Regions from separate parts of the Homo sapiens genome. Here all the other regions are linked to region 1. Evidence: fine-mapped expression QTL. A gene starts in region 1. Each other region holds a variant in brackets. All regions are shown on one strand. Distances are from middle to middle.

Region 1 (5,227 bases):
GGCAGCCCCCTGGGCAGAGGACATCTGCTTTCTCTTTCCTGATGTCCAAGCCTCTGGTAAAACATGTGATAGCAATGGGAGCTGAAGAAAAAGGAGATAATATTGTAAGCATTCTTAGGACTTCTTGGGGCATAGTGGTGGGGAGACTACAGTGTGAGATTTAAGTTTTACTTCCCTAATTTCTACACTTCTAGTTATGACTATTGACTTATATACCCTTCCATACCATTCCAGATTTTGGCAAGCCACAAGGTTGTTTTCCAATTTAATATAGTCCCCAGCCACTATAAAACTCTAATGTGAAAGTTCTGGGTTTTTATTTCGTTTTTGTTTTTGAAATGGGGACTCGCCAAGTTGCCCAAGCTAGGCTCAAATTCCCGAGCTCAAGTGATCCACCTCCAACTCCCTAGTAGCTGGGATTACAGGTGTGCCACTGTGCCTGGCTTCTCAGTTCTTAACCAGGTTGGAAATACATAATTGGAACTATATCTGAACTAGAAAATAAAAGTCATTTAATATTAATTATAGAAATATAAAAAATCTTGGCTGGGCGTGGTGACTCATGCCTATAATCCCAGCACTTTAGCAGGCCAAGACAAGAGGATTTGCTTGAGTCCAGGAGGTCAAGACCAGTCTGGACAACATAGCAAGACCTCATCTCTTCTAAAAAAAAAAAATTTTTTTTAAATGGCCACACGTGGTGGTGCATGCCTGTACTCTCCGCCACTGGAGAGGCTGAGGTGGGAGGATTGCTTGAGCCCGGGAGTTCAAGCTTGCAATGAGCTATGATTGCATCACTGCACTCCATCCTGGGTTACAGAATAAGATCTTGTCTCCAGAAGAAAAAAAAAAATTTTTAAATCTCAACTTTGATGACGCTATGTACACAGTTGCTTGAGGTAAAGATAGTAAATCTGGATTGAGCCTTTGTGGAACATTTTCATAGACATGTGCACAAATCAAAGCCATCCTTTCCTTCATAGGACCATTTATCCTAGTTAGCCTACAAATGCAGATCCTTAAACTCACACATTAAGGAAGCCAACAAAAAGATGCTTAGATTCACAGAAAGTTATCTAACTTGATTGTTCATTTTATAGATGAGAAAATTAAAGCCGTGGGGTTAATTTGCCCAAACAACATTCTACAACTCCCGAAGGACAGAAAACAGAAAAGTGAATCCCTTCAGAATACAGCATTTTTATCTTAATTGAACCTGATTATTTCTGCTCCAGATCTGTCCAGTGAGATTTATCAAGCAGCGGATGCATTTTTAGAAAGCACTGTTAATATTCTCAAGTTTTACACTGTCAACCTAACAAAGAATCAGTTTTTACTATAAATGATGCTAGGAAGAGACAAGCTCTTGGCAACAAGTAACAAGATAACATAATACAACATGTTAATTTGTGAATTTACTGTCGATACTAAATTGAGATTAATGTTATTAAATGCTATTTTTCAAACATGGGAAGTTGTAGTTATCCAAACCTTTTTAAAACATATATTAATTTTAAAAACCTTTTTTTTCCAAGGCAGAGGAATACTTTCTGGCCATACTGTCCAACTGAGTACCTTGCCTGTGACAAGCACCCTCCTCTGTGCCCTTTGTGGTGACAGGTACCTTACATTCCATGGAAGAGAAGGAAGGATGCAGGCGCAATGCCCATTTCTTAGCTCTGAAGCAGTCTAGAGAGCTGAGAGGTTAAAATCCTTACCCCTAAACAGCCTCATACCTATCATCAAACAGCCTTAATCCTTCCTCCCATTTTCCGCTGAGATGGGGGCGGCATCGGAATCCGGTGCCAAGACCGACCGCCTTTAGTTGCGAACACTGACTTTTGTTAAGTAGAGCGGGAGAAATACAGCCATGAGGGATACTTAACCCTCATTCCTACTTTCAAGGAAAACAAACGGTAGCTCTTAGGAAAGCGTTGCCTTTTACACTGGAAAATACACCAAACCACACACCCATACCCGGACCTCTACACGTGGTACAAACTTTTTAAACTCTCTAGCGTGTAGAGTGAGACCGCGAGTGCTTCTGATTATAGGGGTTACACCTAGAAACATAGCTAGCGAGTCAAACAAGGTGGGACAGCGACGTTCGCCTCCCTCTCTCTCGGCTACGGCAACCTGAAGTCGGGTCTGGGCGGCTTCTCCTCCACCCCCAAACGCAGCAGAGCCCAGGACTGGTGCGCTCCTCGGTGAGGCTCAAGGAGTCCTCCTTCCTCGACCTCCTGCTGCCGGCGCTCAGCGGGCCCGGGGTCTGGGGCTGTGGGTGGGCCTGGAGGAGGCCTTCTTCCTAGTGCTCTTGGAGAACGTCCCCCCACTGGACCCCAGGGGCCCCCTACCATGGGAGAAACAGGTGAGCAGGAGCAGATCGGCTGCAGGGGTTAACGCGGGCGCGCCACGCGGCGGCTCAACCTTCGCGCCTTCCTCCTCAGGCGGTAGGGCTGAAGCCCAAGGGGCTGGATCTGAGTCCCGCTTGTACCCGCTGGTGCTCAGCCCCTGCGACCGCCTGGACGCACCCCAGCTCCCCCACTCACCGGCTCCCTCGCTGCCCGCGGGCCCCGGCAGCAGCAGCAGACACACACCTGCGAAGAGAGAAGCGTGAGGGCTGGCTCCAGCCTCCACCCAGCGGAGCAAGGGGCCGGGGTCGTGAGGGGCGCGCACCCACCGAGGCCGAGAGCCGGGATCCAGGCTGCGGACATGGTGACTGATAGGCTGCTCACACCTGGGAGAGAGGGAGAATGCGGGCAAGGCCAGGGTGCGGGAGGCCCCGCGCGTCACCTCCTCAGAGCCCCGCACCCTTCGGATCCCCGGGCGCGGCGCAGAGGAGAGAGGACACAGACGACCCGCTGCTCCAGGCCAGCGCCCCTCTAGGTCTGGGAGGCGCCTCGGCGGCAAATCGAGCGAAGCCCAGGATCGGTGTGCAACCCCGCACCGCGGGGAGGCGGGGGCGCCAAAACGACGACAGACAGGCTGGGAGCGACAAAGAAACAGGGACAGAGGCGTCAGGGATCCCTCGCACCCGCGCCCGCCGCCCGGGGCTCCGCACCTGCTCGAGATCCACCCGGCTGCGCCCGAGTGCGGAAGGCAAGGCCCCCGCGGCCGCTATAAAGGCTGGGCCGTGCGCATGAGCACTGTGCGGGGGGCGCGGGAGGAAGCGCGGGAGCCGGTCCCCCGGGGCCCGGCGGCGACTTCCAGCTCCGCCTTCGCCCCCTGCCGGCCCCGGGGTGAGGCCGGCGCGGAGGCGCCTCCTCCAGCAGCGCAGGCTCGGCCACCTGGACGCGGCGCCAGTCCCTAGAGGGGCACGAAGGTCCCCGTGCCGGCGTCTCAACGAGTGTGGAGGGCCGGCGGCCCCGACGGCGGCAGCAGCGGCCTCGCCAGCCCTGCTCTGCCGGGACCAGGGCTGCTGAGGCAGCGGCGGCCGCTACCCGCCCCACCCAGCGAGGCCTGGAGCTTCTGAGAGCTGTCAGGTCCACGCGGCCTGAGAACCGAACTTCTCAACTTGGTGCTCTCGTGGAAAGAGTTCCTACTTCTGAAATAAAACCACCCTAGGTTTGGTAAACGCATGCCGCGTTTTTGTTAGAAACCCTGTCAACTGACTGCTAGCTCGTTGGACCTTAGGGATTCGGCCTTGCGCCTTCGTTTCTGCTGGAGTCCTACTTTCCCCAGTGGTTCAATTTGTGCTCCTGCCTAGAGCCACGCGTGTGAGACAGCCCTGACCCCAGCAGCCGGTACCTTTGCTTCTTTCTCACCTCAGGAAGAATTTATGCCTGATTGCCTTTCGAAATTCCCAGACTTGGTGTCTTGTGACTGCACAGAATCTCAGATTTGATAATGTGTTCTCCTTCTCCCCGCACCATCCTGCTAACGTTTTACAAATGGAAATGGAGAAGGAGCAGAATTCTTGAGGAGTGTTAGTGACAGGCGACCTGCATGGCAGCGGAAGAACCAGACCCAGGCCCAGACGCTAACCTTTCTGGTACAATATAAACTTTTTCAAATAGCCTTATTTAGTTACAATTTACATGCCATAAAATCCATCCGTTTTGAGTGTACAGTTCAATGATGTTTAGTAAATTTTCAGAGCTGTACAACCATCACCACAAGCCAATTTCAGAACAGGTTCATCCTCCCCAAAATGATCTCCTCGCCATTGTCAGTCAGTCTCTTCTCCCACTCCTAGTCCTAGGCAATCACTAACCTATTTCCTGTCTCTATAGATTTTTCTTAGTGGTCGTTTCTTATAGATGGGATTATACATTGTGCGGCTTCCTTCACTGCACAGAATGTTTTTGAGGTTCATCCATGAGGCATTATAGAACAGTACTTCCTTTCTTTTTATTGTTGAAAAGTATTCCCATGCCATTTTATACTGAGAAACAAATACACCACCATCACCTGGAAGTCAACTAGTGTAGTAGTCTTAATTACAACTATCTTCCTGATTGGAATGACTTAGTATTTGTATCAGGCAACTAAGGAGTGTTGATTTCATTCCCTTTACTACCTGAATGTCTTCTGGAGGGAAAGAGACCAAATAACATTTGAGGGCTGGGAGGTTTTTGATGTTTATTTTCATGGCTGCTTTCAAGATTTACTCCCTTCCCTGGTATAGAGAATTACCCTTTTCTTAGAAATCCAGTAATCTAGCCACTGCCCCTGATATTTTCCATGGGAGAAATTTCAAGCCTCAGGACAATTAAAGCTGTCTTTTCCATTATTGTTTATTGAGTGTCCTCAATCAGGGTTGGATAACCTCCCCTAATTAGGCTGGACAAATTGTCATGATGCTATATAATTAGGAAGAGTCTGTACGCTGGAAAAAACCTGCCACTTCACAGCTCAGCAGGCAGGTCCCAAATGGCCAAAGGGGTAGATGCTATTCAGAGCCCCCACAGGGCACTGGCAGCCCTCCTGTGATGTAATTTCAGTGAGTGATTTGGCAGAGTCAAAACTATGCAGCTATTTCCATGACAGACCCTGAGTCTGTAACCATTAAAAAATAAAGGAAATACCTCACTGAATTTCATGGTTGTTTACTGAGATTCATCTTAATTATTTTGTTTTGAAACATTTAAGAGAAGTTACTCTGTCTTTACTATTTTTTTCTTTTTGGTAAGGCCAACCAAGGAGAGTGGAAGAGTGGGGTTTAGACTCTCATTCTTAGCTAGTTTGTAGTTCATGCTCACCATAAGTATATTAAAGAAAAATATCT
Region 2 (5,227 bases), 28 kb after region 1:
GAAGGTCTGCAGGAAGCTGTTTGGCCACCAGCTGTGTGTCTGGTTGTAGGTATGGGCTGCTGTTGGCCAACAAGGTCAGTGGTTGGGAAGAAGAGCTATACAGAGGAACTGTTCTAGAACACAGGAGACCAAAGACCAGCTGGAGCCTGCTGGGCACCTTTGCATATTTCTGTCACTGTGTCTGATGACAGACTTTCAGAACATAATGGCTATTGTTTCACTTCTGTCTTCTAAATCTCACACAAGATCCTCTTGGCCAATTAAGCCCACAGCCATAGAAGGGAGAAGATTTTGGGAAACATGATTTCAGTTTGACCGAGTCAACACAGAACAAACCACCACAGATTTCTGCTTCTGTCAGTGTGGCTCTTTAGGACAGTCTCTCAGGCACGTCTGGTCTCATAAGAGGTAGTAAGATCTCCAAGGACCCTCTCCCAGCAAATACAACAACCAGCAGAGCCGTGGGCAATGAAAGTGTGAGATGAGCTTTCCCTGAGAGTAGATGTCAATAGTCATGCTGCTACCAAGATATTGGTGGCCAGGTAAGAAAACTGAGCTTGGAACATCCAATGTGAGCTTCGACTGTGCCAAGGGGCTGATGTCATCCCAGGGTAGTACTGCCTTTTGCTGCTGGTAAAAGAAGAAGCAAAAAACAAATTGTCTCTGGGGGAAATCTTCAACAATTTAGTTTGCAGATTAAGCAATCATTTCACAATCAAAGTTCACCATGCACATTGCAATGCAAGCCAAGCTGAGTGAGATCAATAGAAAAAAAAAAAACAGATTTAGACCCTTCCCCATAGACTTCAGTTATTAGAGTTGTCAGTTGCACAATATAGGGAAGCTATGTTAAAAATATTTAAAGGGGAGGGTGTGGTGGATCATGCCTGTAATCTCTTTTGGAGATGGAGGCAAGAGGATCGCTGGAGGCTGGGAATTTGAGACCACACTAGATAACATATTGAGAGCCCCATCTCTACAAAAAATAAGAAAAAAGTAGCCAGGTATGGTGGGGCACGCCTGTTGCCCTACCTACCTGGGAGGCTGAAGCAAGAGGCTCTCTTGAGCCCAGGAGTTGGAGATTGCAGCGAGCTATGATCTCACCACTGCACTCTAGTCTGGGCAACAGAGTGAGACTCTGTCTCTAAGAAAAAAAAAAACTTAAAGAAATAATGGACACAATCAAAAAGATAAGTAAGTAACAAAAAAACCAGCAGGAATAAATAGGTAGACTTGGAAATAAAAGGGAATTTCTGAAAATGTAAAATACAATTGTTAAAAATTTAAGGACTCAATGAATGGGTTTGACAGCAGATTTAATACAGCCATAATCACTCCAGGAAAGGCAGAAAAGGAATTGGAAAACATAAAAAAGTAGATATGTGAGGAAATCTAATATATATTTAACCGAGTCCCAAAAAGTGAGACTAGAGAGAAAATTGTAGGCAATATTTAAAGAGATATGGGCTTTAAATTTTCCAGAACTAATCTATTCCATAGATCCTAGGAAAAACCTGTTTTGAAAAAAAAGGAGAGCTGTTGTAAAATATGCAGACTATAGTTAATAACAATGCATTATATTCTTGAAAATTGCTAAGTATAGATTTGAAGTGTTCTCATCACAAAGCAATGATATGTATGTGAGGTAATATATATATTAATTAGCTCGATTTAGCTATTCCACAATGTGTACCTATTTCAAAGCATGCTGTACATGATAAATATATACAATTTTTATTTCTCAATTAAAACAAATAAATAAAAATTTAGAAAAAATAAATAGAAAGCCTGAATTGTCCTAAGACTATTTAAAAAAAATCAAACTATCAGTGATGTTTTCCCACTAAGAAAACTCTATGTCTTGGATGTTTTACAGGTAGTTCTACCAAATTTCTAAGGAGCATATTATTCCAAATGTAATAATTCTTTGAGAGGATAGAAAACTCATTCTATGAGGTCACTGCTACCTTGATACCAAATCCAGGCAACGTCAGTATGAAAATGGGTTATTACAGTCACTCTTTCTCATTAACACATACACAGACTGAATCTATCAGTTGATAATGAACACCCAAAGGTCTCTAATACAAAATTTCAATGAAATGGCTAAAGATAAGTAAAAAAAAAAGGGAATAAAATTTACTAGCATTAAAATCAGGAAACACTGCCAGGT[A/G]TATTCTGTGTACTTCTCCCTATATGAAGAGGGCACCTTCCACCATAAGGGGAGGGCAAGTATATAGTTACAATTTTTTGCAGTGTTCTGTTTCTTATATTGTCAAGGATACAGAGTGTTGTTCTTTGTCTTATTTTACTTAAAACTTACATATACATTACATATATTCTTTTGATTATATCAAGAATTATATATACATGTGTATACATGTGTGTACATATTTGGGTATGTGATATATATTTTTCTTCAATGGAAAGGGGATGGCATAAAAACAAGCTTGTAATGGAACAAAATGGCCAAAGAGAAGTAATTAGGACAAAACTGCATTGACACTGAAACTAGGAAATCATGCTAAGCATAAGCCATGCATTTTTGGAAATATCAGCCAGATAAAATGCAATTTGAAAAAGATTAATGAAACCAAAAGTTGGTTTTTTGAAAAGATAAAAGTGACAAACCTTTAGCCAGACTAATTAAGCAAAGAAGAGAGAAGACCCAAATAAATAAACAGATGAAAAAGGAGACATTACAACTGATACCACAGCAATTCGAAAGATCATTACAGGTTATTTTGAGCAACTATGTGCCAAAAATTGAAAAACCTAGAAGAAATTGATAAACTCCTAGGCACATACAGCCTACTAAGATTCAACTATAGAGAAATTCAAAACCTGAGCAGACCAATAACAAGCGATGAGATTAAAGCCGCAATAAAAAATCTCGCCGTAAAGAAAAGTCCAGGACCTGATGAATTCACTGCTGAATTCTACCAAACATGTAAAGAAAAACTAATACCAGTCCTACTCAAACTATTCCAAAAAACAAAGAAGGAGGGAATACTTTCAAACTCATTCTTCAAGGTCAGTGTTACCCAGTACCGAAACCAGACAAAGACACAACAAAAAAAGAAAACTGCAGACCAGTATCTCTTATGAACATTGATGCAAAAATCCTCAACAAAATGCTAGCAAACAGAATTTGACAACACATTAAAAAGATCATTTATCATCAACAAGTGTGATGCATCCCAGGGTGTAAGGATGGTTCGATATAGTCAAATCAATGTGATCCATCATATCAACAAAATGAAGGACAAAAACCACATGATCATTTCAACTGATGCTGAAAAAGCATTTGATAAAATTCAACATCCATTCATGATAAAACCCTTAAAAAAATACTGGGGCTAGAAATATACCTCAATGTAATAAACATCATATATGACAGAGTCACAGCTGGTATCACACTGAATGGGGAAAAACTAAAAGCCTTTCCTCTAAGATCTGTAACATGACAAGGCTGCCCACCTTCACCACTGTTATTCAACGTAGTACTAGAAATCCTAGCTAGAGCAATCAGACCAGAGAACGATATAAAAGGCATCCAAATAGGAAAGGAAGAAGTCAAATTATCTTTGTTTGAAGATGATATGATCTTATATTAGGAAAAACCTAAAGACTCCACCAAAAACTATTAGAACTGATACATTGAGTAAAGTTGCAGGATACAAAATCAACATAAAAAAAACCAGTATCATTTATATGACAACAGAAAACAATCTGAAAAAAATAAAAAAGTAATCTAATTTACAATAGCAACAAATAAAATTACCTGGAAATTAACTTAAAAGAAGTGAAAGATCTTTACAATGAAAGCTATAAAACATTGATGAAAGAAATTGAAGAGAACACTGAAAAAATGGAAATATATTTAATGTTCATGGATTGGAAGAATCAATACTTTAAAAAATGTCCATAGTACACAAGGCAATCTACAGATTCAATGCAATCTCTATCAAAATACCAATGACATTCTTCACAGAGGTAGGAAAATAATTCTAAAATTTATATGGAACCACAAAAGACCCAGCTTAGACCCAAGGTAGCCAAAACTATCCTGAGCAAAAAGAACAAAACTGGAGGAATCCCATTCCCTGACTTCAAGTTATACTACAGTGCTATAGTAACCAAAATAGCATGGTACTAGCATAAAAACAGACACGTAGACCAATGGAACAGAATAGAGAACCCAGAAAGTAAACCATACATCTACAGTGAACTCTTATTGATGAAGATACCAGAAACATACATTGGGGAAAGGACACTCTTCAATAAAGGGTGCTGGGAAAACTGGATATCCATATGCAGGAGAATAAAACTAGACTCCTTTCTCTCACCATATACAAAGATCAAATCAAGATGGATTAAAGCCTTTTCAACTTTAATGGATTTATTTTAATCCATTTTCACTTTAATCTAAGATCTCAAATTATGAAACTACTAAAAGGAAACGTTGACAAAACTCTCCAGGACATTGGACTGGCAAAGATTTCTTGAGTAATACCCCACAAGCACAGGCAAGCAAAGCAAAAATGGACACATGGGATCACACCAAGTTAAAAAGCTTCTGCACAGCAGAGGAAACAATCAGCAAATTGAAAAGATAACCCACAGAATGGGAGAAAATATTTGCAAACTATCCACCTGACAAGGGATTAATAACCAGGACATATAAGGAGCTCACACGACTGTGCAGGAAAAATATCTATTATAATAATCTGATTTAAAAATAAGCAAAAGATGTGAACAGACATTTTTCAAAAGAAGACATACAAATGGCAAACAGGCACATGAAAGTGTGCTCAACATCATTAATCATCAGAGAAATGCAAATCAAAGCTACAATGAGATATCATCTCACCCCAGTTAAAATGGCTTTTTCCAAAAGACTAACGATAACAAATGTTGGCGAGGAGGTGGAGAAAACAGAATCCTCGTGCACTGTTGGTGGGAAAGTAAATTAGTACAACCACTATGGAGAACAGTTTGGAAGTTCCTCAAAAAACCAAAAATAGAGGTACCATATGATCCAGCAATCCCACTGTTAGGTTCTATCTAAAATAAAGGAAATCAGTATATTGAAGAGATCCACACACCCATGTTTATTGCAGCACTATTCACAGTAGCCAAGATTTGGAAGCAATCTAGGTATCCATCAACAGATGAATTAATAAGGAAAATGTGGTACATATACACATGGAGTGCTATTTAGCCA
Region 3 (5,227 bases), 100 kb after region 1:
TAGCTCTCAGATTCTAATACTGCAAATTGTGTTGAAAACTTTCATAGTCTTGGCATTCCTTGCCATTTTCCTCTGCCTGTTATATAGCTAAGATCACCCCAACTATTTTGTAGTTTGAAGCTACAGCATGTTTCTCAACCACTGATATTGAGAAGCCAAAGTCCAGGAGAGCTTTTCCTGGGATTTTAGAGAGGAAAGGAGGATGACCTCCAGTCTGTGCTGAAGACTTAGATGGAAAGAGGGTTATGCCTCTCAACAGCACAGAAAACAGCAAATTATGTTTGAGAATTCAAGAGATGAGTATTCAGCAGTAGCTCACAAATGGAAGTCACCAGTTCAAAATGCAGTACCATATGTGAATCACTGCTAAATTGAACCCTATTGACATATCAAAGAATACATTGTTGTTTGTTTTCAGAAGGTTGTAGAGATTATCGTAGATTTTGAAGGGATACAGGAACAGTTTTCTCTAGGTGTGAAAGGGCACAGCCACTTAAAAGGTGTCAGAAAAACAATATGTGCAGAAGAGCAGTCCTCGGGGAAATCCCAGAGCCTCAGCAGCAATGTGGGAAGACATAAGGACCAAAACAAAAGTCACAAAACAAGACTCTTCCCTACCCTTTTGTATTTGTTTTGGTCCTTATTTCTTCCAGCACGGCATGTGGAAGGGACAAAGGAAGAGAACATTAATCTTGAACACTAGAGAAGAAAGGGAGAGAGTTGGATGATCTCAGAGCAGTAGAAAACAGCCTTTTAAACATAGAAGGTATGTCTGTTTTAGACTATAGGATGATCTTTTTTTTTTCTTCTTTCTTGTTTCAATCAATGTGATCACAAAGAGTCAACACAGGTTTGATAGAGTGAGAAGAGGTAGTGCAGCCTATTCGTTTGTTTGTTTTTCTGTTATTTCATACTTAAAGGTAAACAAAACCCTCCGTTATATGTGCTACTAAGTCTTTTAAAAATCAAAGGAGACAGTGGGAAGTCAGGTGACATGGAAATAGTCGGATATTGTATCTGCAAAGCCCCTAGCCTCAGCAGGCACATCCTGGGTTCCATTTCTCTGGTGTCCCTTCCCCTGCCCCGCTTCCCTGTTTGAAGTGGCTGGGCACATTGCCTCTACCTGGAAGCTGATAAGACACCCTCACTGCACACTGTCAAGGTTTTCCAAGAAAAATAGCAAAGAATGCACTTGTGTTGAGGTACAGGAGTTGCTGACTGGCAGGTCTCTAAAGAATCAACAAGCCCACGTTTCTGCCTCCTCTCATGTTCCCAAGCTGATTTTCAGCTCAAAACTAATAAAATCGACGTGTTTTTGTAAATCAACAAGTGCAGAGCTTCAGCTCATTTTCTAAATCCTGATGTGCCAATTTAAGAACATTCCCCTCCGCTCAGAAAATTACTCTGAAGAATATTTGTAGGAAAGGCATTGCCCAGAAAGTGGTTGTAACTTTGTGTATGTTTGTTCATACACAAAGTATGAATTAATGATAATTCAGCTAATATTTGTTGGGCACCACTATGAGCTTGGATCTGTGCTTGGCAGTGGGATCAGAGCAGAGAACAAGTCTCTACCCTGGGGATGTTTCAATATTTAAGGAAAGAACTTGGTTAGTTTTGAGGTGGTATTGCATAGAAGAATTGAACATTGAAAACACAGGTTTGAAAACAAATGGTATTAAACACTACATATAACTCCTCAAAGATTTTGCTTTTTGTCCTTTTATTAGGGAGGAGCATTTAATATCAAAATTACTATTCTGAGTGGCCATAATTCAAGAGAAAAAAACTGCAGAGGCTTGTGATTTTAGTAGGAGAATTTTTTGTAGATATCTGTCTCACAAAGAACATCCGTGGGATGCATTCTTATTTGAAGGAAGTTTAACTGTCTCAGAGCTTTTGTGTTTTTATACCAAGGAGCATACATTTGAAGAAGTTTCTATCCTTATATTTCAAGCAGATTTGCATCAAAGCATAAGCTTCATGCACTGTTGAAGACCTTCCCACTAGGTTGTATCCTATTATTTTGCATAATTGTAACCATACTTCGGTGCTGCATTGATTCTCTAACCATTTCCTTTGGGATAATCGGAAACATCTCTGTTGAGATTGAGTCAGGAATGTAGAAGTGGAACTAACCAGGTTCCTGTTGCGTGTACCCGTTTCAAACCACCGTGCTCTTGGAGCTTTCTCCATTTCTTTCTGTGGTATGTCCACTTACAGGAAATAGTCGCCTCAAAACAACCAGCTCTATCTTGCTGAGTTTTACCCGATGGTTTACCTTTTCTCTCATCTTCTCTTTCCTCTTGCCTTCCTGCCTCCCCATACTTCAGGATTTATGTTCCTTTTCTTTGTGACACTTACTTGATGAGTATGACTGTAAAGACATTGTTAACCTCTCCCCTCGCCCCCGCCCTCCCCACTCATCTTTGTATCCTGGATAGGGAGAGGTTTGATTTGAGGGAATTGTGAGTGAGCAGGCAGGAGCTCCTTGGGAGCCAGGCCATGCATCGGCTCCAACAAGCCCCGCCACTCAGGTGCAGCCATCTCCAATCCTGAGCTCATTTTTATGTCCCCAGCAAACATGCATAATCTTAGACAAACAAACAATCCTGCCAAAAAGGGCATCCAACAGTTCCTTAAGACAGAGCAACAATTCTTGGCTCCGGAATCAGTAAAATTATCTATTTTCAAAACAACCCCTTTTAAAAAAAGAAAGCAACAAAGAGGATAGTGTTGTTTATGTAACTTTTTTGTAAGGTTATAAAAAGTTTTTTTTTTTTCTCTCTCTCTCTCTGGGTACAAAATGGGTACGGTATGTGTTCCCAAGCCTAGAGAGGTTGTTTGGGAAAGCAATGATATCTCTTGAGATTTTCCTTTGCTAATGACTTTAGCCTTTCTCCCTTGTAGAAAAAAAAAAG[GT/T]TGTTTTTAACATTCTGCTCTGCAAGTTCTTAGGAATGGTTGTTGGGAACTGGGTACCTTAGATCATTTCTCTTGTCCCTGAGAGCTGTTCTCAGGCCCTGTGAGGTGAACGGTCAGGGGTGATCTAGCATGGCAGCCATGGAGCTCCTTTGTTGGGTGGGAGGAGGTGGTGGGGTCCTTGCAGCAGTGACTCCAGCTCCTGACTGGTGCCTCTGGCCTCTCCGGATGACCACCATGACTTTTTTTTTGACCTGGCTGAATACAATTTCTCCAGTTTTTTTTTCTTGTGACCTTCTGGCCATCAGCTTCCACTTGTTGCCTGTCAGGTGAAATTAGCATTACTGGAGCCCCTCTAGAAAGAGGGCAACATGTAATATGTGTGGGGAGAGTGGAGGGCTTCACACAGCCTTCAAGAAACCTGAAAAATGAAACCGAAAATTTAAAAATCCACAAATAAGGAATTCAAAAACCTTATATGCTCAGAGGCTACTGTAGAGAGAAAAGCAAAGATGAAAGAAAGCAAAGGGCACCCTGCCATCTTAAACAAGGAAAGAAGAATAAATTAATGTGAAGGGACCTTTGTAGAGGGAAGAATGTCCAAACACAGGAATACAAGGCAGACTTGAAGTCCAGGTCACACGGAGTTGATCAGTGAATTCTCACCTAGTATAAGTACCAGTGGCACCATTTGGGGATGTGAAATGTGGGAGACAGTGGGATCTGTCCACCGCACCACCAGGGATTCTGGTGGGGGTCATCCCCAGCATGCTTTTCCCCGGAACTCCTCTTCTTCATGTCTTGTGCCATTGGCTGTGTCATTCAATGGGGACAGAAATAAAAACGAGGCAGTTATTTGAGTTTCAGATCAGCTGTACCCACTAGCTATATTTCATTTGTTTGTTTTGCAGGGAGTAATTTAGGAACTCCAATGTAATTGCTGATTTTACTAGTTGTCACTGAGAAGCATTTCACATCAAATTTCAGCTGCATACCATGCTCCCATTTCCACTTAGGCTTAGATTGGACCTGGTCTTGGGCCCCTTTGGGATCTGAGTGTGTTTCATTTCTCTGTGTTTCTTGGCTTAATGAAAATTGTCAGATACGTCTTATCTTTACTCATTTGCTCAGAGATAACCTTCAGGACACAGTGAAAAATAAGGATATTGGGCCAAAGTTCATCTGTTTGTTCAGAATTTCTGGAAAATATCAAAAACATTACTTCTTTTGACTGTAAAAGTAGAGTTTTAAATTGTATTTATTTAAATTTTAAAGTACTTCTTGCTTTTAAGAGCTGCTGCTTTGATTTTGGAGAAGGATAATTCTCACCCACCAACCATTTATTAATTTAGTACCTACTAAATGCTATAACAGAGCAGAGTGTGGAGAGGGCCTGGTTGATGTGGCCCATAGATTTGGGCAGGCTTCCCTGAAGTGGGCTTTGACAAATGAGTAGGAGCTTCCCTGATGAAGACAGAAGAGGAGGATATTTCAAGCATAGCAGAGCCCCAGAGCCATGCAAATAAAGGGCTTGCGAGGGGCAGCAACAGCTCCTGAGTGAGGCCAGCCAACCAGATGGTGGAGTGAGAGGTAGGCATTGAGGTTAGAAAGACAGATTAGGCAGCTGGGTGTGGTGGCTCACGCCTGTAATCCCAGCACTTTGGGAGGCCGAGGCGGGCGGATCACGAGGTCAGGAGATCTAGACCATCCTGGCTAACATGATGAAACCCCGTCTCTACTAAAAATACAAAAAATTAGCCGGGCGTGGTGGCGGGTGCCTGTAGTCCCAGCTACTCAGGAGGCTGAGGCAGGAGAATGGTGTGAACCTGGGAGGCAGAGCTTGCAGTGAGCCGAGATTGCGCCACTGCACTCCAGCCTGGGCGACAGGGAGACTCCGTCTCAAAAAAAAAAAAAAAAAAAAAAAAAAAAAAAAAAAAAAGAAACACAGATTAGGGTCAGGCTTTGTATGCCAAGAAAAGAATTCAGATTTTGTCCTTCAAGCATTGAACTGTCATCTAAAATTCTTAATCAGGGTCATGATATGGGAGGTATAGTGAACATTTTGCACTTATCTTGGCTGGCCAGCAAAGAATGATGCTGGAGAGATGGTGGAGAACTTGCTTTCTGTGTTAGAGGAGTTCCCCACCTTATGATGCAAGTCGGCCTCTGCTGTAGGTGCTGAAAGTGTGATGTACCCTCTTTCCAGTCTTCCTCGCAGTTCAGGAATGGGCACGTGACCTAGGCTCTGCCAATCAGATGTCTCCACTCCAGACTGAATAGTGACATGAAGAAGCAAGGACCTCAAGCA

The links. PIP is the estimated chance that this variant, and not a neighbour inherited with it, causes the effect.
Region 2: its variant is fine-mapped to the expression of COCH in whole blood (TOPMed, PIP above 0.99).
Region 3: its variant is fine-mapped to the expression of COCH in thyroid (GTEx, PIP above 0.99). The same link has a PIP of 0.9 or more in adrenal gland.

What each region holds. Positions count from the first base shown.
Region 1 is chr14:30,872,426-30,877,652 of GRCh38, reverse strand. COCH (cochlin) reads right to left here and starts at 3,094. Exons shown (of 12, transcript NM_004086.3): 1 at 3,062-3,094; 2 at 2,681-2,737; 3 at 2,550-2,597; 4 at 1-81. The coding sequence starts at 2,714. COCH-AS1 (COCH antisense RNA 1) reads left to right here. Exons shown (of 5, transcript NR_038356.1): 5 at 1,101-1,474. RefSeq lists a silencer at 3,013-3,532.
Region 2 is chr14:30,844,496-30,849,722 of GRCh38, reverse strand. No RefSeq gene overlaps it. Among named protein-coding and RNA genes, the nearest start is that of COCH, 27 kb to the left of the region's middle. The variant A/G (reference allele first, on the strand shown) is at 2,174.
Region 3 is chr14:30,767,777-30,773,003 of GRCh38, reverse strand. No RefSeq gene overlaps it. Among named protein-coding and RNA genes, the nearest start is that of COCH, 100 kb to the left of the region's middle. The variant GT/T (reference allele first, on the strand shown) is at 2,922.